3 separate regions of the Homo sapiens genome follow, and all the other regions are linked to region 1. Evidence: fine-mapped expression QTL. A gene starts in region 1. Each other region holds a variant in brackets. All regions are shown on one strand. Distances are from middle to middle. Region 1 holds the start of QDPR (quinoid dihydropteridine reductase). Region 2 overlaps QDPR (quinoid dihydropteridine reductase). Region 3 has its middle 30 kb from the start of LAP3.

Region 1 (11,021 bases):
TTAGGTATGGGAACATTGAGACCACAGTGAGAAAAATAAGAACAACAAAAATGAAGTGCTAAAATAAGTCATCTGGCTTTTACATTCCAATCTATGTCAAACTGACACTTTAGAAAGAGCAAATGAGTAGCAGAGTTGTGCTCACAGTTTTATGTTCAAAATGTATAGATTTATACATGTATATTTTGGAGAGACAGACTGGAAGGAAATATAAATAAATGATTAACTATATGGTAGAACTATAAATGATTTCCCTTTTCTTTTTGCTTATTTGTATTTTCTATATCATACATGCATCACTTCTAAAATTTTAAAAATTTGTTATAAAAACCAGATAAGGATCATAAAACATCAGTATTGAGATTACCAAGGAAAGTGCAACTAAATGAAAAGCAGACCCACGTACAGACCAAGTGGCACCTGAACTTATTAAAGTTCGTATCTGGAGACCTATGATCCTGACTCCACCACTGAGTAGCTTGTTGGCCTTGTCACTTAGTCGCGCAAACTTGTCTTCACAGCTGTAAAATGGCCTGCCTGCCTGCCACACTGAGTGGTTGGGAAAATAAGGCGCTTCACATAGTGATGTGAAGTTATCCTTGGGAATGTGGGCTACAGCACTAAAAACCATTAAACACAGAGTCAGCTGCGCACAGTGGCTACTCAGGAAGTCCCAGCTATTCGGGAGAATGAAGCAGAAGGATCCTTTGAGCCCAGGAGTTCCAGTCCAGCCTGGGCAACACAGTGAGAACCTGACTCAAAAGTCATCCAGGCAGCTCACCAGAAGGGCTTCTCAAGAAAGTTAAGCACTGCTTAAGAGCATCAAAGATTTTTCTTTCTTTTTTTTTTTTTTGTTTTGAGACAGAGTCTCACTCTGTCACCCAGGATGGAGTGCAGTGGCACAATCTTGGCTCACTGCAACCTCTGCCTCCCAGGTTCAAGTGATTCTCCTGCCTCAGCCTCCCGAGTAGCTGGGACTACAGGCGTGCACCACCACGCTCAGCTAATTTTTGTATTTTTAGTAGAGACGGGGTTTCACCATGTTGGCCAGGATGGTCTTGATCTCCTGACCTCGTGATCCGCCCATCTCAGCCTTCCAAAGTGCTGGGATTACAGGTGTCAGCCACTGCACCCAGCCTAGAGCATCTAAGATATTTATACCAGGATATCCATCAAACTGTTAATAGTGCATCCTTCTGGGAAATGATACTATGATGGGGAGAAAAGGGACAGTTTCACAGTTTATTTCTATATTTACGTAGTTTTGTTGGACTTTTGTTTTATAATATGCATATCATTTTATAATTAAAAATAACCTGTTTTGTTAGTGTTCCTGCTGTGAACTGGGTAACTCCACTTTTTAGAATGTATCCTAAATAATCAGATATGTGGGCCAGGTGCAGTGGCTCATTCCTATAATCCCATTACTTTGGGAGGCCAAGGTGGGTGGATAACTTGAGGTCAGAAGTTCGAGACCAGCCTGGCCAACATGGCAAAAACCTGTCTCTACTAAAAATACAAAAAAGTTAGCTGGGCATTGGGGTGCATGCCTGTAATCCCAGCTACTCAGGAGACTGAGGCACAAGAATTGTTTGAATCCGGGAGGCAGAGGTGGCAGTGAGCTGAGATTGTGCCACTGCACTCCAGTGTCAACAGTAGAGCAAGACTCTCTTAAAACAAAAAACAATAATAATCAGATATGTAGACAAAGACGTTCATCACAACATTCTTGACAATAGTAAAACAAAAATCCTGCAAAAAACTCAAATGTACAATAAACAAACTAAATAAATTGTGGCCATTCCATAAAATGGAATATCACACATCTACAAAGAGGTTTTTTCAGTAATCTGGAGAATTATTTAAGTATAAAAAAAAAAAAAAACAAAGCTTACCATAAACTATAAAATACAAAATTACCTAAACTTGTAAAAGGAGTAACATACAATATGCATAGAAAAAGACAATAGGCCAAAATGTTAACAGTGAACTAACTCAAAATGATTATATAATTTATCTTTGTATCATTTTTCACTTTTTCCAAATTTTCCTCAATGAACACAAATGGCTTTCCTAGTTAGAGAAACAACAGCTTTAAAAAAAAGGAAGAACAGGCCAGGCGCGGTGGCTCATGCCTGTAATCCGAGCACTTTGGGAGGCTAAGGCGGGCGGATCACAAGGTCAGGAGTTCAAGATCAGCCTGGCCAACATGGTGAAACCCCGTCTCTACTGAAAATACAAAAAATTAGCTGGGGGTGGTGGCAGGCACCTGTAATCCCAGCTACTCAGGAGGCTGAGGCAGGAGAATTGCTTCAACCCAGGAGGCAAAGGTTGCAGTGAACGGAGATCATGCCACTGCACTCCAGCCTGGGCGACAGAGCAAGACTCCGTCTCGGGGAAAAAAAGAAATAAAAGGAAGAACATACAGCCAAAGGAAGAACATACAGCCAGTGGTCACCTCTCCCCAGGGTTCCCCTCACAATGTTTGGGGGCCTTTTTGAAACTACCTGGTCAGCCTGCTCAGTGAACGAGTCTGTCATTTTAACAATGATGCTAGCGCTGGCCTCTTCATTCTCCACCACATCAACGCTGGCAACCCACTGGAAGGAGAAAACAGCTTTGGTTAAGAGGCAGTGAGTTGTTATTCCATGAAAGAGTCACACATAGAAATGAGGGGAGTTGGCCAGGTGTAGTGGTTCACGTCTGTAATGCCAGCACTTTGGGAGCCAATGTGGGAGGATCTCTTGAGGCCAAGAGTTTGAGACCAGCCTGGGCAACATAGCAAGACCCAGTCCCTACAAAAAAATTTTAAAATTAGTCAGGTGTGGTGGCACATGCCTGTAGCCCCAGCTACCCGGGAGGTTGAGGCGAGAGGATCACTTGAGCTCAGTGAGCTATGATCGCACCACTGTACTCCGGGCTAGGCAACAGAAGGAGGCCTTATCTCCATTTAAATAAAAGAAAAAGAAAAAGAAAGAAAAATAAAGGAGCAGAGTGGAGACAGGTAAGAGGCTTCAATGAAAACACACCCTATATTGGGCTCCATCCCAGGCCCTCCTACCTCCAAACACTCTACTCCGCCTCCACATTCACCTCTAAAACACAAACCCTGCACTTCTAGAGACATCAAGGGCCAGCAAATTTTCTGTAAAGGGCCAGATCACAATTACCTTAGGCTTTGCTGGCCATATGGTATCTGTTGTTACTCAAATCTGCAATTGTAACAGAACACAGCAATAAATAGGGGGAAAAAATAAGTGCAGCTGTGTTCCAATAAATCTTCAGAGCTGAAATGTGAATTTCATTAATTTTCATATACAACAAAATATAATTCTTCATTTGATTTTCTTTTCAACCACCTGAAAATGTAAAACTATTCTTAACTCTTGGGCTGTACAAAAACAGGTGGCAGACCAGATTCAGCTCACAAAGGATCCCTGTCCTGCAGCAGAGAGGGATGGACTTTAGGATTGGAAATCAGACAGATCAGGTTTGAATCCCAGCTCTGCCAGAGTGGCTTTCTCACTCCGATGCCGGGCAGAGGTTCCCAACAAAAGAGGTTGTTTGTTGATGATTAACAGGGTCAGTGTAAGAATTAAATGAAATGGAAGATGCTAAAGCTCCTGGCACAGGGGATGTTCAGTCCTTACTCAGGGTCTCTTGGTCTGAAGTCCCCAGAGATAATTATCTCTACCTTAAGCTGTAAACACAGCATCTATTCATCAACATTTGTTATATTATTAATTAACTTGTTATCCCATGGGGGATACTGAAACAATGAAAAGTCTCCATCATCCTAGCCCTCCCTAAGATGGCAGGAAGAAGCTCGGAGGGGAAAGACCAAGAGCCAGAGGTAAATCAGCTCTCCAGATTCTGCCAAGACCAAGGTAAACCAAAGTGCCACCACCAGGAGAAAGCACAGCCTTCACCCTCTAACACATGACGCTAACAGGATCTACTGCCTTAAAGATATTGGGGGCATTAAGAGTCTATGGGAACTCTGGTACTGGGAACACAGTGCCTGGCCCTTGGCAGAAGTGCTGCCTCTGTCACCACCATGCATCTCTGAAGACCTGGGAAAGCGCCCTCATCAGTGTCCCCAAGCACTGAGCAGATGGGTGGCAGGAAGGGAGTGGTGTGACTGAATTCTTCAGAAGCATATTCCTGTACCAGATTCTGAGCAACAAGAAAACCTTGGTAAATGTACACTATTTGGGTGATGGTTACACTAAAAGCCCAGACTTCACCACTACACAACATATCCATGTAACTAAACTGTACTTTTGCCCCCTTCATCTATAAAAATTAGATAGTTTTTTTTTAAAGAAAATCCTGAAAGCCTTTTTCTGGTCCCAGGGGAACTCTTGCCCAGGCTGCTGTGCTGCTGCTGCTAACTAAGCTCCCAGAACGCTGCCGCTGGCAGTGTCTCCACCGGGAAATTGCTGAGGCCTGCTGAGCGGCTGAGGTCAAGGGTCTTTGGCCATGTATCAGCTCTGCTCCGACTTGCCGCCTCCTGGAAATTGACACCTGACTATGCAAAGTAGTTGAAATAGTCTTTGCAGAGCAAAGAAGCCGTCAGCGTTTTTCCGTGCTGAGCCTTCAAACTGTCAGATCCAATGGGGCTAAAAGAACAGGGGTGGGTAGTAATAGTAACATTAATAGACAGCATTTAAACAGTTTTTACCAGGCGTCAGGTAATTTATGTGCAACGACACCAATTATCTCATCTAATCGTCCCAACTCTCACTGTCAGAATCTCCGTTGTACAAATGGGGAAACCGAGGTCCTACGGCGTTAGGTAATCAATACGCGGTCTCATGACTAGTAACCGGGACTGGGCTGTCTCATTCTAGAGCCTTCCTTCTACACTCTCTCTCCGTCCTCTCACCCCTGCTCCCGTTCCTCCCCTTTGGAATTCTCTCCCGAGTCACGCCGGACTTTTTGGGTCTGGCGGAGGCCCACGGAGCACCTCCTTGCACAGCAAAGGCCCAGCGCCCTGGGACTGGCGTGCGCACGCACTCGGAAACAGGAATAGACGCGTAGACCTGTGCGCGCACGTGCAAGCAACACGAGTCAGGGGGTGCACAGGGGCCCCCACCTTCCTCTAGACTGCCCCCCGCCGGGTTCCACACGAAAGCCCCCGGCCACCCCCGCGGAGACCCAGCAGCCCCAGCCCGCAGCATTACCCAGTTGCGGGCCCGAAAAGCCTGCACGCATCGAGAACCCAGAGCGCCCCTGCCGCCGTACACCAGCACCCGGCGCGCCTCGCCTGCAGCCGCCGCCGCCGCCATCCTGCTCCTGCCAGCCCGGCTCCCGCAGCTCCGAATGCCTCGAGCCGGAGCGCCGCGCCCCGCCCCGGCCGGCCAACCCCGCCAAGAGGGAACGCGCGGCGGCCGCGCCCCGCTCCGCGCCCGCTGCTGCCGCCTAGCGCGCTGCCACGCTCGGGGCGCCCCGCCACCCGGAGGGACTGTAACTTCGGCCAGGCCCTGCCCCTGGGACGGGGACATCGGCGAAGCCCCTCCTCCCACCCGCCAGCAAGTGCTGGGCCTCGGGGCGTGCAGCGAGCCGGGCTAAGGGCGAGGAGGGTGGAGAGCGGGTGTTTTACGAGCATTAATTTGTGAAGTGTAAGCATGTAAAATATAGTATAGTACAATTTTCGACCACTGTTTTGGCAATTTTTTATTTTTAATTGTGCATCAAAATAGAGATTTAAGTATTCCCACCTGCCAAAAAAACAGAAGAGGTCGCTCCGCTCAAGGAGCTGAAAGTCCACCGCCGAGACGAGACAAACCACACTAGGTCTTATTTCTTCTATCTAACCGTAAATTTATACCCATTAATCCAAATGGCCCTTTTACTATATGCCACCCATCGCCAGACACAGATCCTGGCATTTTCTCCCTTGTATATTAGTTATTTCTGCCCATGGCCTGTATCTTTAACACAGAGCCTCTCATCTACAGCACTACTGACATTTTGGGCCAGATAATTATTTGTGACAGGTGCTGCCCTGGGTACTGTAGGATATTTACAGCATCCCTGGCCTGCATATACTAGAAATCAATAGCAAACCCCTACCCCTCACTCATAAGAATCAAAAATATCTCCAGATTTAACAGTTGTCTCCTAGGGGCAAATTCATCACTGATAGAGAACCAGAGCTCTAACACTCTCATAACCTTCTTGATAGCAGAACCCTGTATTACATACATCTTTGTGTCACTTCCCATCCACATATAACCTTGTACACAGCAGACACAGATGTTTGTTCAGTAAACTTGTGCCAGGTAAAGCATGCAGAAATATGTCACTAGAGAAGAGGATGCAGCCAGCAGCACATTTTGTTGTCAGAAGCTTCATTATCAGAAATAGAACTGCTAGGAGGCTGGATGGAGAGGAGAGCACCATCTATTTAGTGCTCCTTATATCCAAGGCACTGCGCTAAGTGATCTGCCTGTGCTATTTCACTTTACTCCACACGATAATCCTATGCAGATTAGAAAGCTGAGGCATGAGAGTCACAGACACTTGTCTGGAAGAGTGGGAATTTGAACACAGGTCTTCAATAGCTAGAGTTCCACTTAACCACACCTTTGTTCAGCAAGACAAAGGCTTGTTGGGAATCAAGTGTTTCCCTTAGAGTTTTTCTGAAAACAATTGCTTAACCCTCAAAACACCAAAAGTTGACACAGGTCCCTCACTGACGGCAGAAATATGACTCAATGATATTTACGCAAGTCCTGACTTGTCAAAGCATGCTTAATGTTAAAATAAGAACGTGAACTAACATTATTGATCACTTAATGTGCCAAGCAGTCTTCTGAGCCTTTTATATGTATTCTGTTATTTTTTACCAGAAAAACATTTGCTGTTTCAAAGTCACTGGGATGAAGATGAGCTGTTGTAATTCAAAGACCTGAATTTCAGCCCCAGCACTGACATCCAGTTTTTCATGAGAGAAATGGCTGAAATCGTGCATCTCCTGTTTACCTTAAAGGGTTGCTGGAGCATCAGAGGTGAGCAAGCATATGGTCAAAGCATTTTGCATTTTGTACATGGTAAAGTGCCACTCATCTGTATATATAGTAAGAGACAGGATCTCACTCTGTTACTCAGAGTGGCATGATCATAGCTCACTACAGCCTTGAGCTCCTGGGCTGGAGCAGTCTTCCAGCCTCAGCCTCCAGTAGCTGGGACTACAAATACACGCCATCAGGCCCAACTATTTTTTTTTTTTATTTTTTGTAGAGATAAGGTCTCACTACATTGCCCAGGCTCAGAAATTCTCATTTTTATTTTCATTGTGGAGTGGCCACTGAAGTGAGCCCCAGTTGCGAGGAAGGAAACTGACATTTCCATTAATGTGTCCCTCTGCTTCCTTGACACTCTCCAAGTGAGATTCCTGGGACCCCTATTGGTTAACAGTGCAACTTCCTGAACCCCCCTTCAGGCTTCTGTGACCAACTAAGAAATTTTACTGCTCCACTTTTGCCCAACTTTGCTCCCCAGAGATATGGATAGAGTGACTGTTGCCAGTCTCACATGATGTTAAGTTGATATTCAGGAATAAGGTAAAAGTCAAAATGTCAAAGTCCACAGTATAAGATAGAAAGGAAAGAATATTTCATTCCTAGTATCTACAGATTAAAAGGAAAGCCTAGATCTTCCACTATTAGAAGAGATGAATACCCCAGCAGTGTGGCTACTATTTGCTAATACACTAGAAAAACACTTTTCTCTCCCATTTCAGATAACGTAGAAGGAGGGACGGGTGAGAGCAATGTTAAGTGTTGGATTCCAGGCTACCCCAACAGCCACAAAGTAATTCTAGTCACAGTTTACCCCCAGCAGATTCACACAGTGAGAAATTCATAAGGCCCTATTTACACATTTCAATATTAAAGCCCCAAGAACCGGGGTCATTTGATGGTATTAATAACAGTCCTAAAGATTCTGACAGCAGTGACATTTCAGAGAAAGAAATGCCAGGGCACCCATGCATCAGCGAGATCGACATTTGATACTGCGCATTGTTGGCAATATTCAAGTGCTAATCATTCTGTTTTTGTTTTCCTTCTAACACATGCATTTTTTGAGATTGGTTTGCGTCTCTTAATCTTCAGAGCTACCTGATTTTGCTTATTACTAACTCCTTTATCATTACGAGGTCCACACCAGGGCTATTTAAATACTTGAAACGAGGAACAGTTAAACAGTCTGCTGAAACATTAGTCTAGGAGGAGATATAAGGTTACTTCCTTCAGTAACACACTCCGCTACATAGTCAGGTGAAGATTGTCTCTGTAGAGGCTTCTGGATGTGGTTGTAGGAAGCATGGACTGTGCAAGCTTGCGCTGAAGGAGGACGAGAGGATGGACCTACAACCTTGAAACAGAGTGTTTGGAAGAGCTGACCTTGGAGCAGAGCATTGCCGAGTATCTGAAAGATGTCAATGACCCTCGCTGCTGCTCGGAGACCTTGGGGATGACCTGCACCCACTAGCATGCCTGGATGGTTCAAAAAGGCGTGGTATGGGCTGGCGTCTTTACTCAGCTTCTCCTCCTTCATCCTGATCATCGTTGCCCTGGTAGTGCCCCACTGGCTGAGTGGGAAAATCCTTTGTCAGACTGGAGTGGATCTGGTCAACGCCACAGACAGAGAGCTGGTCAAGTTCATTGGGGACATTTACTACGGGCTCTTCCGAGGGTGTAAAGTGCGGCAGTGTGGGCTTGGGGGCCGCCAATCCCAATTCACGAGTGAGTATATTGGGAGCATGAAAGCTGATTCTAGGCACTCATTTTTGTTAATGTGTAAGAGTGCTTATGTCTCATTGTGGAATTTGGCTGCTGCCTCAACGTCAGGCATAATGTCAAAGTCCACAGTGAGCCAAGGGTTCTGGATCCACATCAAAAAGATCTTTCCTTCCTTCCTTGCTTCCTTTTCTTTTTCTGTAGAGATGTATAGAAACATTAGAAATAAGGATTTGTGCATTTTTGCAGTTTACCTCTATTAATTATGACTATTAAAATATTGAGAGTTTACACGTGTCAGACATTGTAAGCACCTCACGCCACTTGTCTCCTTAAAGCCTTACAACAAAGTTATACAGAAGGAATTGTTAATGTTCCCATTTTCCAGAGGAGTACACTGAGGCTTGGAGAGGTTACATAACTTACCTGAGGTCACCCAGCCAGGAAACAGTAGAGCCGGACTCCAGACCCATGCCACATGACCACAACAAGTGGGTGGAGGCTGCCTGCAGAACTGAACCTTTGGGAAGCATGATGACCCTTTCCACATCTACTTTTGTAAAAGCTTCATAGTCTGAGAAAATGCAAAGGGGCACTGTGCTTGGGTTCTGGAATCAGACTACCCTGGCTGAAACCCCTACTGGAAAGTTTACTGGTGGGGAGACCTCAAGCAAGGCACTTGCCTGTTCTCTGTGAACGTGAGCGGGCACCGACTTTGGCTGGCATTCAGTGTAGCATCAGAGCTGCCCAGGATGTAAGCAGAGCAGTCTGCACAAACAGGAATCCAAGCTGGACTTAGGAACGGGCTTCTGGAAAGGAAAAAACAAAACAGGCAATATTCTGCAAGCCTTTTGAATCGATGAGATCACTGGTGAAAAGTGTCTGCACAAAACCGTAATTAATCAATACCATGCCAATGTAGGGTGATACAGAATTGTATTCATTCCTTGATTTCTATATTTCAGTATTGTAGTAGTTTATAGAAATCTGGCCAAGGTAAATGTCGTATTAAATTTATAAGGACAAAAAGCTGGAACCGTTGACAAATATAATACAAATTGTCATCATTTAAACACACAAAAATTTACATTTGTTATGTATATTCAAGATCAATATGTCTGGGCATATTTATATTTACCTAGCAATTAGATTAGACCCTGGATATTGAACAAATAGCTCCATCAAAATTATAACATAAAACTTGAAAACACACACACATAAACAAATAAAAAAAAGAAATGCTAAAAGCTAACCATGACAACTACATGGACTACTCGATTCTGAACTAGATGCTTTGCTATAAAGGATGTCTTCGGGACTTTAGGGGTCAAGAAAACTTCCCCTTTGCACTCTGAAGGTTCTCTAAACAATCTACTGACAAAAGGCAGATTAATAGGGAAAATGGCTTACACATTTATTAGCATGCATAGGGGAAAAATCACAGAGTGATTGTCCGCTATCTCAATGGGGTACAGGTGGTTGTATCCTCTTCATCTTAGGGGAAAGAGAGATGGGGAAGTGTGGATGATTTTAGGGGACTAGTAAATTATTTTTAGGGAAATTCAATGGGCTTAAAGAACATACAGTGAGCTGGGACAAAGTCTGTTGAGCCCACAGAGCAGACATTGGTTTGTGACAAAAGTCTGTCCAGCTGTGTTAACAGACTTTAGTCTTTCTTCCTGTGATATGGGTACAATTAATGAACACTCAGGGAAGGGACCAGAGGTCTTTTTCTTTGGTAGGTCTGGATGTAGGCAGGTAAGGGAATGTCAGAGAACAACCTCATCCTGTGCTTATGAGACAGACAAAGAATGGAGAGACACGAGGGAGAGGGGAGGCCAGAGAGACCTTGAGACTTCTTCACAAAGCTTCATATTTTAGGGGTGTTGGTTTCTGAACCCCAACAGGTAAATCGTTGAAACTTGAATGGGGTGAGAAGATTAAACAGCAGTCACATGCCAGCATTAACCTAATGACCAGACCCCTGCCATTCCCAGCTCACAGAAATGTAAACTGCTTCGAGTAGGAAGCTGCAAACAAATGCATATTTTGTTTGAGCCTTGGAGGAACTCAGTAAGTACTTCTTGCCTTCCTCCTTCTTCCTTCTTAGAAGGACACCAATGGGAAACATTCCCCTGGGTTCATCTAACGTGGTCTGGTCTGGAAAGCATCAGAACCCTGTGAGAAGCATAAAGGACATTTTATTCTTGTCCCTGAGTAGGAGCGTATTTGAGAAGGTTTTGTTTCCTGCTGCCCTGGGGTTGTCTCAGA
Region 2 (5,404 bases), 23 kb before region 1:
CTGGACAAGGCCACACTGAGACAGGTTAGTGACTTTTCTGGCAGGCCCCTCATAGGCACTGAGATGAGGCCTAAAAATATGCTGGGGTGAGTTCCGTCCTTCCTTCTGTGGTTACCACCTGGATTAGGCTTCCTGAGCTCGGTCGGTTTTTCCCTGTGATCCAGTCATGGAAAGTTCTGGAACAGAAAATAAAAGTTTTTTTTATATTCTCAAAGCAAAAATCTGGGCACATGCTGACCTTCACAGTGACGGCTTGTGGGGTGGGGGGAAGGGGTGGCACAGCAGCGACTGTTTAAAAGCCACTAAGGGCTGGGCGCCATGGCTCACACCTGTGATCCCAGCACTTTGGGAGGCCGAGGCGGGCAGATCGCTTGAGGTCAGGAGTTCGAGACCAGCCTGGCCAATATGATGAAACCCCATCTCTACTAAAAATACAAAAATTGGCCGTGGTAGCACGTGCCTGTAATCCTAGCTACTCAGGAGGCTGAGGAAGTAGAATCACTTGCACCCGGGAAGCAGAGGTAAGCCGAGGTTGCACCATTGCACTCCAGCCTGGGCATCACAATGAGACTCCGTCTCACAAAAAATAATAAATAAATAAATAAATAAAAGCCACTAAAGGTCAGGCATTATGGCTCACCCCTATGATCCCAGCACTTTGAGATGCCAAGGCGGGCGGATCGCTTGAGCCCAGGTGTTTGAGGCCAGCCTGGACACAATGGCAAGATTCCATCTCCAAAAAATAATAAAAAATTAATAAAAGCCAGTAGGCATGATGGACACATACCCAGGCCCCCAGTGAGTTCAGTGGTGTACTCATTCTAATCTCTGAGTGGCAGGATTTGGCATAAGTTTAACTTTCATTTTGGTATTTTTCTACATTGTTGGAATTCTTTTGTGATTTTAAAAGATTCTAATTTGGCCAGGCGTGGTGGCTCACACCTGTAATCTCAGCAATTTGGGAGGCTGAGGCAGGTGGATCACTTGAGCCCAGGAGTTTTTGAGACCAGCCTGGGCAACTGGGTGAAACCCTACCTCTAAAAAAATACAAAAAATAGCTGGGCATGGCACATGCCTGTAGTCCCAGCTACTCAGGAGGCTGTGGTGGGATGATTGCTTGAGCCCCGGAGATCAAGGCTAGGGTAAGCCATGATCGTGACACTGCACTCCAGCCTGGGTGACCCAGTGAGACCCTGTCTCAAAAAAAAAAAAAATTGTTTTTAAAGATTTTAATTAGTTCATTCAAAGAGAGAGACACATGCACAATACTTTGCTATATTACCTTCTCATAAATTTATGAGAGAAACAGATGCAATTCATTTATTTGGCATTTTTTTAATCAAACATTTATAGAGTACCCACAGCTGCACCAAACAATGGAAAAAGAGATAGAAAAAAACAGACTATTACAATAAAATGTTAAATACAGTAACAGGGCCTTTCACAAATCTGAGGAGAGGAGCAACTGACCCCACTTGCAGCAGTCAAAAAGACCCTCTAAGAAGACAGGAATGAAAAAGGGCAAAAGAAATTCACAAGAAACAAGAAGTAGATGATAATTCTTTAACACAAAACATTTACATTTGAGTACATCATCCATTTTGACAATTCACCAGCTGAGACTTCGGACCTTCATTAACTAAAAAGTGCTCAGCATTTCCTTCCTGGGAGACTCCCAGTGCCAATCTGTAACCTTCTGGGCCAGCGCTGATGTGTAAAGGTCCAGTCATTCAGGCCCCTACTCTGGGGTTTGAACAAGCTCATATGAGCACATGGGCTCAAAAAACAAAGCGTTGCTAAAACTCTCTAAAGTACTGTCATGTCATGGCCTCATCTCTGGGGACAGGGTAGGGCTTGGTGAGGGAAGGCTCTGAAAGAGACCAGTGCCGTTTGGTTGTGTAGGGTTTTGTGTGTTGGTTACACATGTTTTTTTGTTGTTTTGTTTTTTTATACTTTAAGATCTAGGCTACATGTGCACAGCGTGCAGGTTTGCTACACAGGTATGCATGTGCCATGTTGGTTTGCTGCGATGCATGTTTTAAATGGTTTTACTTCTTCACCCTCATCTGCAGCGTGGATAGGTGAGTGAGAACGCCATTCTAACCAGGGATGGTAGAGGAAGGATGTGCTCACAGACATCTCAAAGCAAACTTTATGCCAGCTTTTCTGAGAGTTTTCAAATACCACAAATGGGTGGATGTGATCTCTAGAACAAAAGGGGGCCTGTGACAGCCCGTCCTCTGTGGGTCTGTGGCTCAGCACGAGTTCAGACACAAGATCCCAGATGTTCCATCTAGAGTAGGTCTTAGATCAGTATCTCAAGTGTGGTGGGAGTGTCGGCCTTTAAAAAGAAATTCAAACACAAACACAATTCAAAGCTTGATTTCCTCTACAACTTCAATTTTTTTCCTGCAAATCAAGCATGAAGCATGATTCCTGGCATAGACAGAAATAACTGTCAGCACACCAGTTAAGACCATAGGTTCTGCAGCCACACCACTTGTGTCAGATCCCGGCTGTGCTGTGTGACCTTAGGCGAGTGACTTAGCCCCTGCCATCCCTCCAAGTCTCTAAGCCTTAAATAAAAATGACAGCTCCTCCCTCAGAGTTTGCTATGAGCATTAAATAAGAGTTATGAAGTGCTTAGAATGGTGACTGGGACATAAAAAGTGTTCTGTAAGTACAC[A/G]TTTCAAACATAAAACGCAAGTCCCAAATTTCTCCCGATTTAATTTAAATGAGATTGTGACATCAGGCCAGAAGCACACTGCTAACTTCACAAACATCTCTTATAAACAGTCGTCAAAGCAGTTTACACAGAGGCACTACTGGGTCAGGCTGTCACCTTGACCCTCTCGGCACCCCTGCTCCCTGTGGGCAGGGATCCCATCTTTGTCCTCACCGTGACCCCAGAGCCGAGGGCAGCACCTGGCCCATAGTGGGTGCTCGATGAACACATGCTTACTAACTAGAGGGGCTTGAGGAACTGATACCTAAACAAACACAAAAGAGGAATTCAGCTCTCTGTCCCATGAGCGTTCAAATGCCACCCATATTCACAAATGGGCAAAAAGGATTTCGGAAATTAAAGGGCACTTTCTGTGGGTCTGTGGCTTGACACAGATTCAGATATGTGCCCCCAGGCCATCTACGTGGTGTCCCCCTCCCCCATGGAGTCTCCTCATCACAGCAGTAAGGACACAAACTGCAGCTGGGGATCACTGAGCACTTGTTATGGCCAGACACTGTGTTGAGTGCTTGCCGCACACTATCACGTTTAATCCTAACAAGCATGATGGACCTCATGATACAGGTGGGGAAACTGAGGCCTCAGCAGGTCAATAATGTGCTCAGCATGGCCGGTGGTGAGGGAGCGAGCCAGGATTCATGTCGGCACTACCCATTCTGCCACTGTGCTGCCTGTCTCCAAGTCCAGCTACTCTGAGATTCCGTCTGATGTGCAATGCATCCTCAGAGTCCCAGAGACCTCCCAAGACCACCCGGATTGACGATCTCAGGGAACACAGACTTGTCCTCTGGACCACAGCAGGCAGAGAATAGGGGCTGGAAGCTGCTCAGTCATGGACATGTCTGTAATACTCACTCAACTAGGAATTCTAAGGGTGTCCAGGAGCTGAAGTCAGCCTCAGGCATTGATTTCCTGTTCATCGGGGTATCCAGGGTAACCCTGCAATGGACACAGATAAGCACGTCATTCATGTCGCTCCTTTCTAACAACAGGTGCCCAGTCCCCCTTGGCCAGGAAAACGCAAACATACAGCAGGACAACCTAGAGCCTCTGGCACTGAGGGTGCTATTTACATGGAAAGATCAGACAGAAAGATAAGCAGAGAGAGAGCAGGAAGCTGTCCCCGCTAGCAAAGGCCAGATCTGAGCATAATTCAATAAGGTGCGCTGTGGCTCACCACTTAGGCAGATAAGAACAAAACAGAAGGAGCCACATTTTGCCTTTTTAAAAAAGAGTCTTCACTGAATTAAACTGCTTTGTTGCTGTGTCTTTATTCACTCCCTAACATGCAGCACACTCATTTCTAAGGATTTAAGATAGTTATATGCCTTTAAATATGAGAATACTAAAATACTAAAATTTTAAATATGTGGCTATTTTCCACAAAACCTTAAGATTTTTGGCAGAATAATATAGAATTCAGATATGCATGAATCTCCCAAGAACATCAAGGCCTCAGGAATCATTCGAATCATTCAAAACAGCTGTGGGAATCATGTCACAGAATCACAGAACCTCACAACTAAAAGGGAACCAGAAAGTCAATCAGTGCAGTCCCTACAGTCTCAGCATCCCTTTATAGGACCACAGGCAAGAGGCAAGCCTGCTGGTGCTGGAAGCCTTCCAGCGAGAAGGAGTAGCCTCCCTCCAAAGCAGCTGCCTCTGCCTGGGACAGCTGATGGGGGACAGTCCCCCGATGACCAACAGAAACACCTCCAACAGTTTCCCATATTCTCTCTCTCTCACACATACATACCCCATATAATGACTTGAAAGACAGAACTACATATAAAAAAGTAAAATGTGTAGTCTAATTTTAAAGGAAGAAATGAAGGGAGAAAAGAAAGGGAGAGGAAAAAAAGAGGCAAAAAAGACAGACCCATCCAACCAGCCAATCAAACATTCTGGACAGCCCAGGAGAACCCAAAACTGGAAGTATTGCTATGGTCTGAATGTATCCCCCTCAAACTCACATACAAAACACAAACTGCAACATAATAGTATTAAGAGGTGGGGTCTGCAGGAGACAAGTGGGGGCCTTTAGGAGGGGATTAGCATGCTTATAAAGGAAGCTGGAGGGAGCCCATTTGCCCCTTCCACCGTGTGAGCACATATAGAAGGCGCCATCTATGAGGAATGAGCCCTCGCCAGGCACCAAATCTGCTGGTGCCTTCATCTTGGACTTCCCAGCCTCCAGAACTGTGAGCAATACATTTCTGCTGTTTATAAATCACCCAGTCTAAGGTATTTTGTTAGAGCAATTCAAACAGATTAAGATAATAAGTATCTTAAGAGACTTTGGTGTGTTTCAGAACCAGAGGTGAGAGCACACCCAGGTCGCCTGTGGAAAGCTACAGTCAGACAAACGGTCACCTGCAGCAGTGGGGCAGAGGTGGGCAGCAGCCAGGGAACCCCAAGCACTTACGGGAGCACAGCGATGGCGGCTGCCCCGGGCGGCATGCCGCTGTTCTTCCCAGCCAGGCTCTGGCAGAGCTGGTGAACAGCACCCTTGGCCATGCCGTACCCGATCATACCTGGGAAATGGGGAGAAGATGGCTCAGTGACCACTGGCGGCCAGGGGGACAGCAAGGACATGCAATCTTCTCTTGAGATCTCTATTCCCTAAAAACTTTATAAATAGCTGCATCTGGCCTCCTC
Region 3 (10,100 bases), 35 kb after region 1:
TTGGTTGGCATTCTACTGTAGGGAAGAGCTTTCCCTTCTCTCCCACTGATTCGTACATTTATATCACTATAGACTCATGAATTCCTATTTTGTTCCATTGTTTACTCTCCATTACCATCATCATTTATTTTGATACTCAAATTATCCCAAATTTGGCTGGTGAGGGCTCTTTCCAGCCAGCTCCTGTTCTTTTGACATGCCCACAACATTATCTGAGCACTTCCTCGCCTATGGCATGGCAAGAGTCTAGGCTCATTTAGTACTTTCCCCATCCCAGCCTTGGAATCAACCTGAGAGAGCTACCGTTTTGTTGTTGTTGTTTTTTAACATGGTAGAGTTTTAAGTCAGGTACTGTCATCGTTCCTATTTTATAAATGAAAAAGAGAAACTCAGGAAGCTGGATATGTGGTTAGAGATAACAGAAGAATGAAGGCAACTCAATAACATTTTGCTACCATGCCACACAAAACCATGAGGAAAACACCATTAAAATAACAACTGGGCCATGGTAGTGATTTGGGAAGACCAATTTAACTCCCATTTGAGATTAGGGACCACTGCTCCCTCACCCTGGAGCACTGGCTAGCATGCGAACTCTTGCCAACTTCATCCTTGACAAAGAAACAGAGAAAAAAGAGAAGAGGCCATCAGCAGCTGCTGCAGTACCTGCTAGAAAACCAAATGCACTCCACACTGGTGTTTAATTGTCAAACAGACAATGGAAATTTGATTGCACTGAATTTTGAATATCTTCAATTTTAAGATTTATCAGAAATACACTGTCTGGGTTTTCAAAAATAAATATTTATTATCATTGGTGAATGTGATGTATCCTTGCTGGATTTTTACTATGTGAAAATACATTTTGTATTGTTTATTGAAAATGTAATAAATTGATGCAATAAGACAATTTTTAAAAAAGAATCCTCTTTTCCCAATACCCCCAGCATTTTTGACAGCTTTATTGAGCTAGAATTTTTACAGCATAAATTTCAGCTATTTAAAATGTACAACTCAAGTAGTTTTCAGTATATTTACAGAATTGTGCAATGTCACCACGTTTTTAGAACATTTTTATTACCCAAAAAAGAAACCTTCTGCCCATTGGTAATCACTCTTCATTCTCTTCCCCATGCAGCCCTAGGCAACCACTAATCTACTTTTTGTCTCTATGAATTTGCCTGTGCTAGATATTTCATAGAAGTGAAATTATACCAGATATGGTTATTGTATAACCAATGACTGGTTTCTTTTACTTAGCCTAGTGTTTTCAAGGTTCATCCATGTTGTGGCATAATATCTCAACATTTTAACTTTTGTTTTTTTTGAGATGGAGTCTTGCTATGTTGCCCAGGCTGGAGTGCAGTGGTGCTATCTCGGCTCACTGCAAGCTCTGCCTCCTGGGTTCACGCCATTCTCCTGCCTCAGCCTCCCAAGTAGCTGGGACTACAGGCACCTGCCACCACGCCTGGCTAATTTTTTTTTTTTTTTGTATTTTTAGTAGAGATGGAGTTTCACTGTGTTAGCCAGGATGGTCTCGATCTCCTGCCCTCGTGATCCGCCCGCCTCGGACTCCCAAAGTGCTGGGATTACAGGCATGAACCACTGCGCCTGGCCCATTTTAACTTTTTTATGCCGTCATAATGTCCCTCTTCCCATGCGATACACATCAGACTTATTTTCCTTCTGCTTTCTTCAAATAAATATATTAAGCATGTCTTTATTTCTACAGAATTTTCTTCTTTGTAAGTTTTAATGTCTATACCAGTAGTGAATCCCATGACATCCCCCTACAGTGGAAATTTCCAGGCTTGTCATTTCAGACAATGCAGTCGTTCCTGTAATCCCTATGCATGCAGTCATTCAAGATGAATCTGTTTACAAAATCTGAGCCAAAGGATGACCCACAACAATAAGCACTTTACTACTCAACTGTTCCCTCTTGCAGCTAAATGAAGGTTTTGTCCTCGGGAGACGGTGACATCACCTCTAGGGCTGACAGGCCACAGCAACTGACCTCCTCATCTGGGCTTCTCCCCGGAAGAGGTGGAAGTCATTGTCATTGTTCCTCACAAAGGGCCGCTGTGCTGAAATGCAAAGTAAACAAGCAGAAATGACAGCCTGCTTCATTATAGAACTAGCACTTCCTTCTCACACTCATTTCTTAGTAAACAGACGTGGGTTTGTTTTCACTTTTTACTTTTTATTGGTGAATATGTATTTAATATGCCTAATTTATATATATATATATATGCATAGAAACTACAGTATTGCAGTTCTAGGTAACTATTATCCAGCTTCAATAATTATCAGCCCATGGCTAATTTTGTTTCCTCTGGACATTTACCTCCACTCTCCACCTCCATTAACAAAAGCTTCTTACTGAAAATTATTCCAAATAGTTACTTCATTGTCCCTGCCCTGTCATCCCATAGATCCAATTATTTTCATTTTGTTTTCAACAGATTATTTTGGGAACATTACTATGTGTTTGGCACAATGCCAGGTCCTGGGGATACAAAGATGAAGATGACATTGTTTGGGAAGTTTACAGACCAGGAACTAGAAACACAAACATTGTATTTTATGATAACATGAGGTTGGAGGATGGCCAGAGCTGATCCTGACACAGCCTGGATCAGGAAGCAGTGGGGTTTACAAACAAAACCATTAATAGTAATTACATGGCCCGGCGGGGTGGCTCACACCTGTGATCCCAGCACTTTGGGAGGCCAAGGTGGGTGGATCACCTGAGGTCGGGAGTTAGAGACCTGCCTGACCAACATGGAGAAACTAAAAATACAAAATTAGTCGGGCATGGTGGCACATGCCTGTAATCCCAGCTACTCGGTAGGCTGAGGCAGGAGAATAGCTTGAACCTGGGAGGAGGTTGCGGTGAGCCGAGATGACGCCATTACATTCCAGCCTAGGCAACAAGAACAAAACTCTGTCCCAAAAAAAAAAAGGTAATTACATGCTGGGGCGAGGGTAAGTTTACAGTAAATTTGCTAGTATGGAAGTGCTTATGTGCTATTATTTTAAAGTTTAGCTGGGGTTAAAGTAGCTACAGCAATGAGGTTGGAGTTGGCTAAACTGTGAAAGCAAGTTCGATGGAACCCTGGGTCCACTGTACTGGGTATGAATCACAATCTAGATAACCCAGAGTACTTACTGCAAAGTCAGCGATAGCTCTTCTGTTTTCCACATTGCCGCAAATTTCCCCTAAGGTGAGGCCTGCAGCTAGCTTGAATGGGGAAAGTCAGGGGGTAGGTATAAATTAATATCTTCATAAATTTGTATCAGCCTCACAGGTATGAATCTGTTAAATGTATATAAACATATAAAATATATATGTATCTCTATATAGCCAGCCAAAAGTGGGAAGAAATTGAATTGCCTCTGTATTAAGAGAGACATAATAAAACCAGACAGTAGCTTTGCCTGCCTGATGAAGGGAGGTGGCTCCTACAGGCCACCTGGCCTAGACAGCTGACACCCCCTGGGGTACGGGGACAGTTCTTTGGTGCAGTGATCAGCATGTCCTTAACAGACTGTTCCCGAGGTAATGCCTACTGCGATCTGCTCACCTGTGATCTGTCCACATGCCGTCTGCCTGCGCTGGGTTCTGTGCGTGCACGCAAGTCTCTCTGGTCCAGAAGCCAGAGCTGGGATGGAATTCAAGGAACCACAAAAGTCTCCCTCTCACTGTCAATTTTGAAGAATGAATAAGGGGTAGGCAGGCAAAGGCAAAAAACTCAGGGTGAGGGCATAAATAGAAGCAGAGGTATCGAGGCAGGAAACAGCACAGCCAGGTCACAGCAGTTCAGCACCCACTGGGACAAGCGCAAGACAAGAAGTATGGAAGGAACACAGGCAGGCGAGAAAGGTAGGGCCAGGTTCGAGAAGGATTCCTGCGTCCTGTGAAGGAACTGGGCTTCACTGAGGGCTGAGAAGCAGGATAGGTGGCGCATTAGAAGGAGTCCTCGAGCAGCATGTGGACAGCACATGGGAGCAGAGGATCCAGGCAGGAAGGTGGTGCGGCGTCAAGGGCAGAGGGAGGCAGCCTTCAACCAGTTCAGAAATGAACCAGGGCTGTCATGGGCAGGGTTATGCCCTGCACCGCCCCCCCAACTTATGTTGAAGTCTTGACCCCGGGTACCTCACAATGTGACATATTTGGAGACAGGGCTTTTATTTATTTTGTGAGACGGAGTCTCGCTCTGTTGCCCAGGCTGGAGTGCGGTGGCGTGTTCTCGGCTCACTGCAAGCTCCGCCTCCCGGGTTCAAGAGATTCCCATGCCTCAGCCTCCCCAGCAGCTGGGATTACAGGCTCGCTACCACAGGGCAGATCCCTCATGAGAGTAGATCTCTCAAGAATAGCTTGGGCCATCCCCGTGGTAACAAGTGAATTCTCGCTCTATTAGTTCACAGGAGAGCTAGTTGTTTAAGAGAGCCTGGCAGCTCCTCCTCCCCCCTTGCTTTCTCTCTCACCATGTGACAGGCCTGCTCCCACTCTGCCTTCCACCACGAGTAAAAACTTCCAGGTCGGGCGCGTTGACTCAAGCCTGTAATCCCAGCACTTTGGGAGGCCAAGGTGGGAGGATCACGAGATCAGGAGATCGAGACCATCTTGGCTAACATGGTGAAACCCTGTCTTTACTAAAATACAAAAAATTAGCCAGGTGTAGTGATGCATGCCTGTAATCCCAGCTACCCGGGAGGCTGAGGCAGGGGAATCGCTTGAACCCGGGAGGCAGAGGTTGCAGTGAGCTGAGATCACGCCACTGCACTCCAGCCTAGCGACAGAGCAAGACTCTGTCTCACATAAACAAACAAACAAACAAACAAAAAACAAGCTTTCTGAGGCCTCACCAGAAGCAGAGGCAAGCACTATGCTTTTTTTTTCTTTTTCTTTTTCTTTTTTTTTTGAGATGGAATCTGGTGCTGTTGCCCAGGCTGGAATGCAGTGGCACAATCTCAGCTAACTGCAGCCTCTGCCTCCAAGGTTCAAGTGATTCTCCTGCCTCAGCCTCCCAAGTAGCTGGGATCACAGGTGTGTGCCACCACACTCAGCTAATTTTTGTATTTTTAGTAGAGATGTAGTTTCCCCACATTGACCAGGCTGGTCTGGAATTCTGGACCTCAAGTGATCCACCCATCTTGGCCTCCCAAAGTGCTGGGATTACAGGTGTGAGCCACCACCCCTGTCCTACTATGCTTCTTATACAGAAGCATAGTATAAGATTCTGCAGCATTCTGTCTGCAGAATTGTGAGCGAAAATAAACCTCTTTTATTTATAAATTACCCAGCCTCAGGTATTCTTTAATAGCAACGTAAAATAGACTGACACAACAGCCATCTACAAGCCAAGGAGAGAGTCCTCAGAAGAAACCAACCTTTCTAACATTTTGATCTTGGACTTCTAGCTCCAAAATTATGAGAAAATAAATTTCTGTTGTTGAAGCCACCCAGTCTGTGGCAGCCCTAGCACTCTAATACAAGGGTACAATACGAAGTGGAGGAGGGTCAGGAAAATCAGCAAGACATCAGTTGCAAGAGAGGATAGAGAAGAAAGGATCGGGGAGGTCTCCCAGACCTCTTGTTTGACGACTGAGTAGAAGGCAGTGTCACTACCTGTAACGGGATCCAGGGATGAGGTGGATCTCAGGGCCTGTGGATGAGACATCCCAGTAAAAATGCGTAGCAGACAGTTGGATGTAAAAGTCTGAAGC[G/A]TTTCAAGAAGAGTGAAACAACCATGATTTTTGTCCCATTTCTGGGACCCTATTGCTCTGTGATATCTCTGAGCCTCAGTTTCTTCAACTGTAAAAAAGGTATATTGGCGGGGCGTGGTGGCTCACGCTTGTAATACCAACACTTTGGGAGGCCGAGATGGGTGGATCACTTGAGGGCAGGAGTTTGAGGCCAGCCTGGTCAACATGGGGAAACCCCATCTCCAGTAAAAATATAAAAACTAGCCAGGGGTGGTGGTGCATGCCTATAATCCCAGCTAGTGGGGAAGCTGAGGCAGGAGAGTCATGTGAACCCAGGAGGCGGAGGTTGCAGTGAGCCGAGATTGTGTGACTGCACTCCATCTCAAAAAAAAAAAGGTATACTAATACCTTTCCTGTCTACCAAGGAGAGTAGTTGAAGGGGCAAATGATAATAATACCATACATGTAAAAATTTCCTGAAAACTGAATAAGGCAGCATTAAAAAAAAAAAAATATATATATATATATAATTATATATAAGCTTTTCTGGGACGCCACTTTTAAAATCAAAAGATGATTTTAAAGCTTTGTTGAGTTCAGTTGAGGCTTTAAGAACAATTTGCCACAAAATGACAAAGCTCGTTCTGGGCATGATCATTTTATCAAATCCTGGATCTGGTAGTTAAAAGTGTCATTGTTTTCTTTTTTGTTTTGTTCTGTTTGTTACCAAAGGCTATAATTATTTGGTGGCAATTTGCCATTTCTGGAATCTTAATCATACTGGCTTATAATGTGGTCTGCTCTGAACAGAGCTTATTTATAACTACACAACTATGTGCATTTTCTTTAAGACTTAGGAGGAATATTATAAATCAGGGATAAATTGTTTCATAAGTGAATCAGAAAGAAACTAGAGAAGTAATGAGCTTTGACTGCCTTAGGTATTGTTGCTGTGATTGTTAAATGCATTAGCTAATAGTTTTACCATGGATACTATATAATACTATCACACCGTATATGTTTTAATAATCATATCAAAGCAATCCATGGTGCAAAATAATTTCTAAACTATGATTCTAAGGTTAAACATGTCTAAAAATGAAAGTGGTATGACCACCGTTTGCCACTAGGGGGAAGCAATCGATTGACCATAAACTCATCATGTCTCAGCGGGCGTGGGGCTGCCGGTTGGATCAAGGAATCTTGAATGATTCTTTCAGCTCAGAGTCACTCTGTGATTCCACTATGCTTCCAGTTTCAAGTTCCAATTGAGTAAGGAAATACCTTTTAATATTTTAGATAACGTTGCTAAGTATAACGAGGGTTATTTCTCAGCGGGGTGTTGCAGGACCCTAGGAAACAAAAACTGTTAGAACTTTAGAGGTCTTGACTGGGCGCAGTGGCTCACGCCTGTAATCCCAGCACTTTGGGAGGCCGAGGCGGGCGGATCACGAGGTCAGGAGATCGAGACCATCCTGGCTAACACGGTGAAACCCCGTCTGTATCAAAAATACAAAAAATTAGCCGGGCGTGATGGCGGGCGCCTGTAGTCCCAGCTACTCGGGAGGCTGAGGCAGGAGAATGGCGTGAACCCGGGAGGCGGAGCTTGCAGTGCGCCGAGATCTCGCCACTACACTCCAGCCTGGGCGACAGAGCGAGACTCTGTCAAAAAAAAAAGAATTTTAGAGGTCTTACATCCTACCAGTAACCTGTAACGTCACAGCCATAAAGGTTTTCTCTCTGGTCCTCTGTGTCAGCGCAGGGTTGTAAAAATCAAATTACTATACTTGATTAATAACTCATCAAGGATAAAATAGTATAATACATAGGCCCAGCAACTCTAACAAGTGACTGGCCTTTTTTTTTTTTTTTTTTTTTTTTTTTTTTTGTGAGACAGGGTCTCACTTCTCACCCAGGGTGGAATGCAGTGGTGCGATCTCAGTTCACTGCAACCTCCACTTCCCGGGCTCAAGCAATCCTCCCACCTTAGCCTCTCGAGTCTCTGGGACTGCAGGCGTGCGCCACCACACCTGACTAATTTTTGTATTTTTTGTAGAGATGGGGTTTTGCCATGTTGTACAGGCTGGTCTTGAGCTCCTGAGCTAAAGTGATCCGCCTTCTTTGGCCTCTCAAAATGCTGGGATTAGAAGCGGGAGCCACCACACCCTGCCCAAACTCAATTTTATATCTATAAAGTTTCATTCTTTTTAAAGATTATCACTGTAATAATATATATCAGAAAACTTAAAAAAATACAAAATTATGAGAAAGAAGATAAAGATGAAACCACTGTTTATATTTTATTTTCTTAAATGGTTTCCCAAATTACTGTATTTAATTAAGTCAACACCTTAAATCTCTTCTGGAATAAGGAAAGCAGGATGGGTAGATAGACCGACACAGATGTGAGGAATTATCTCAATAGTTTCCAAACCTGGCTGATGGTCAGAATTACCTGGTGAGCGTTTTAAAACTAAATCAGAATCTCTTTGGAGAGGGAGGAGAGGAAAGAAGGAAGCTAGACTCCAGAAAGAGAGAGAGAGCGAGCGAGAGAGGAGTGTGTGTGTGGTGTGTGTGTTTGGAGTTACCCAGTTGATGGTTTAGAGTTGGCATTTGCAAACTGCTGAGGTAAACAAGTTTGCAGGTGTTGCCACAGAAAATATACAGAGCTTCCTTGGTGTTCATGGGGATGTAAAAACAAAAAAAAAGAAAATATAAGGACCAGAATGGTTAAGAACTTAAATTCAACCCCAATAGTGAAGACCAAATTAGAATTAAATTATTTTACCAAAAAAGAAAAATTACTTTGTCATATGAAAAATCGTGGCAAGCATACATTTGACGTATTGATAACTGTAATGATACGTTTGGGTTTTTTTTCAGTCAGTGTTCTTTTATTAGAGAAAGGAGTTTATTGTAATCCTCAATACTGAGAACAGTTTGTCTCTGAAAGTATATGTAGATGAGCAAACTGCTAAACAAGAAAACAGTCCAGGCGCAGTGGCTCACACCTATAATCCCAGCACTTTGGGAGGCCAAGGTGGGCAGATCACGAGGTCAGGAGATGGAAACTATCCTGGCCAACATAGTGAAACCCCGTCTCTACTAAAAACACAAAAATTAGCCGGGCGTGGTGGCACATGCCTGTAATCACAGCTACTCGGGAGGCTGAGGCAGGAGAATTGCTTGAACCAGAGAGTTGGAGGTTGCAGTGAGCCAAGATCACACCACTGCACTCCACCATGGTGACAGGGCAAGACTCCATCTCAAAAAAAAAAAAAAAAAAAAAAAAAAGAGAGAAAGAAAGAAAAGAAAAGAAAACAAGAGTTCTCATTCACAAAGGACCTCTGCAGTTTAAAAATAAAAAAAGGCATCAGGATTTCTCAGGACAGTCACTTACATTTCAGGGACACCAGATTATTCTCTTTTTAATTTTGAGACAGAATCTCACTCTGTCACCCAGGCTGGAGTACAGTGGTGCCACCGCCGCTCACTGCAGCCTCAACTATGGGCTTGTGCCACCACACTCGGCTAATTTTTGTAGTTTTTGTAGAGACAGGAGTCTCACTATGTTATCCAGGCTGGTCTCCAAGTCCTGGGCTCAAGTGATACTACTGCCTCTATTTCCCAAAATGCTGGGATTACAGGTGTGAGCCACTGCTCTTGGCCCAGGGTAGTATTAAAGGAAGATCCCAGACCTGACAGAGGTGAAAATAAGAGAAAAGATGATTAGTCTCCTTTATTGTGGAAGCAGAAGAATGCCAAGAAATTCTTTAAAAGGCAAGTGGTTGGCCATTAATAATCGCCTGGGCTGGGAGTGCAGTGACTGTGGGACTTTGCATAATTTGAATGTTTATTTTATTCTAATATTTTTCCAAGAAGAAGCCATAATTTTATTTATGATAGAAACAGGTACAAATTTCAAACCAAGTTGCAGTTATTCTTTTGAAACACACAAAAACAGTCATTTTCAGGTGGTCACATTGTTAATTCTGTAATAGCAGTTACAATATGATTACTCTTGTTCTTCAAGGCTCGGACTTCCTTTGCTCTCAATACATTTGCTTGTGACATGACCAATTCTACGTCCTTAACTTCCACACCTGTATCATCAACCTTTTCCTCTCCAGTCTCGTCTTGTATAGTTGGAGTCTGTGTGTTTTCTTGAATGTTTGAGACAGCTCACTCTGTGTCTTAGCAGGTGCTACCCATGCTTGTTAAGATAAATCCTTGATCTTGGCTTCCCCAAAAACACACACATAGGTATCCGAAGCAGGATTCTTGTAGACATCTGGTTTTGTGATGACAAAGAAGATATTCTTAGATTTCCAGTAGTGACTGTAGTAACCCCTGTTATCTACGGAAGACCGAGTTTGGACATAGCCTTA

What was found. PIP is the estimated chance that this variant, and not a neighbour inherited with it, causes the effect.
Region 2: its variant is the best candidate, but not a certain one, in a credible set for the expression of QDPR in whole blood (INTERVAL, PIP 0.59).
Region 3: its variant is the best candidate, but not a certain one, in a credible set for the expression of QDPR in skin (TwinsUK, PIP 0.75).

The regions. Positions count from the first base shown.
Region 1 is chr4:17,506,764-17,517,784 of GRCh38, forward strand. QDPR (quinoid dihydropteridine reductase) reads right to left here and starts at 5,327. Exons shown (of 7, transcript NM_000320.3): 1 at 5,187-5,327; 2 at 2,508-2,600. The coding sequence starts at 5,291. It overlaps CLRN2 (clarin 2), which reads left to right and starts at 8,402. Exons shown (of 3, transcript NM_001079827.2): 1 at 8,402-8,756. The coding sequence starts at 8,504. RefSeq lists a silencer at 4,956-5,535.
Region 2 is chr4:17,487,061-17,492,464 of GRCh38, forward strand. It overlaps QDPR (quinoid dihydropteridine reductase), which reads right to left. Exons shown (of 7, transcript NM_000320.3): 5 at 5,172-5,280; 6 at 3,602-3,685; 7 at 1-176. The coding sequence ends at 71. Among named protein-coding and RNA genes, the nearest start is that of QDPR, 22 kb to the right of the region's middle. The variant A/G (reference allele first, on the strand shown) is at 2,687.
Region 3 is chr4:17,542,424-17,552,523 of GRCh38, forward strand. It overlaps the pseudogene NACAP5. Among named protein-coding and RNA genes, the nearest start is that of LAP3, 30 kb to the right of the region's middle. RefSeq lists enhancers at 2,349-2,945, 7,121-7,240. The variant G/A (reference allele first, on the strand shown) is at 5,734.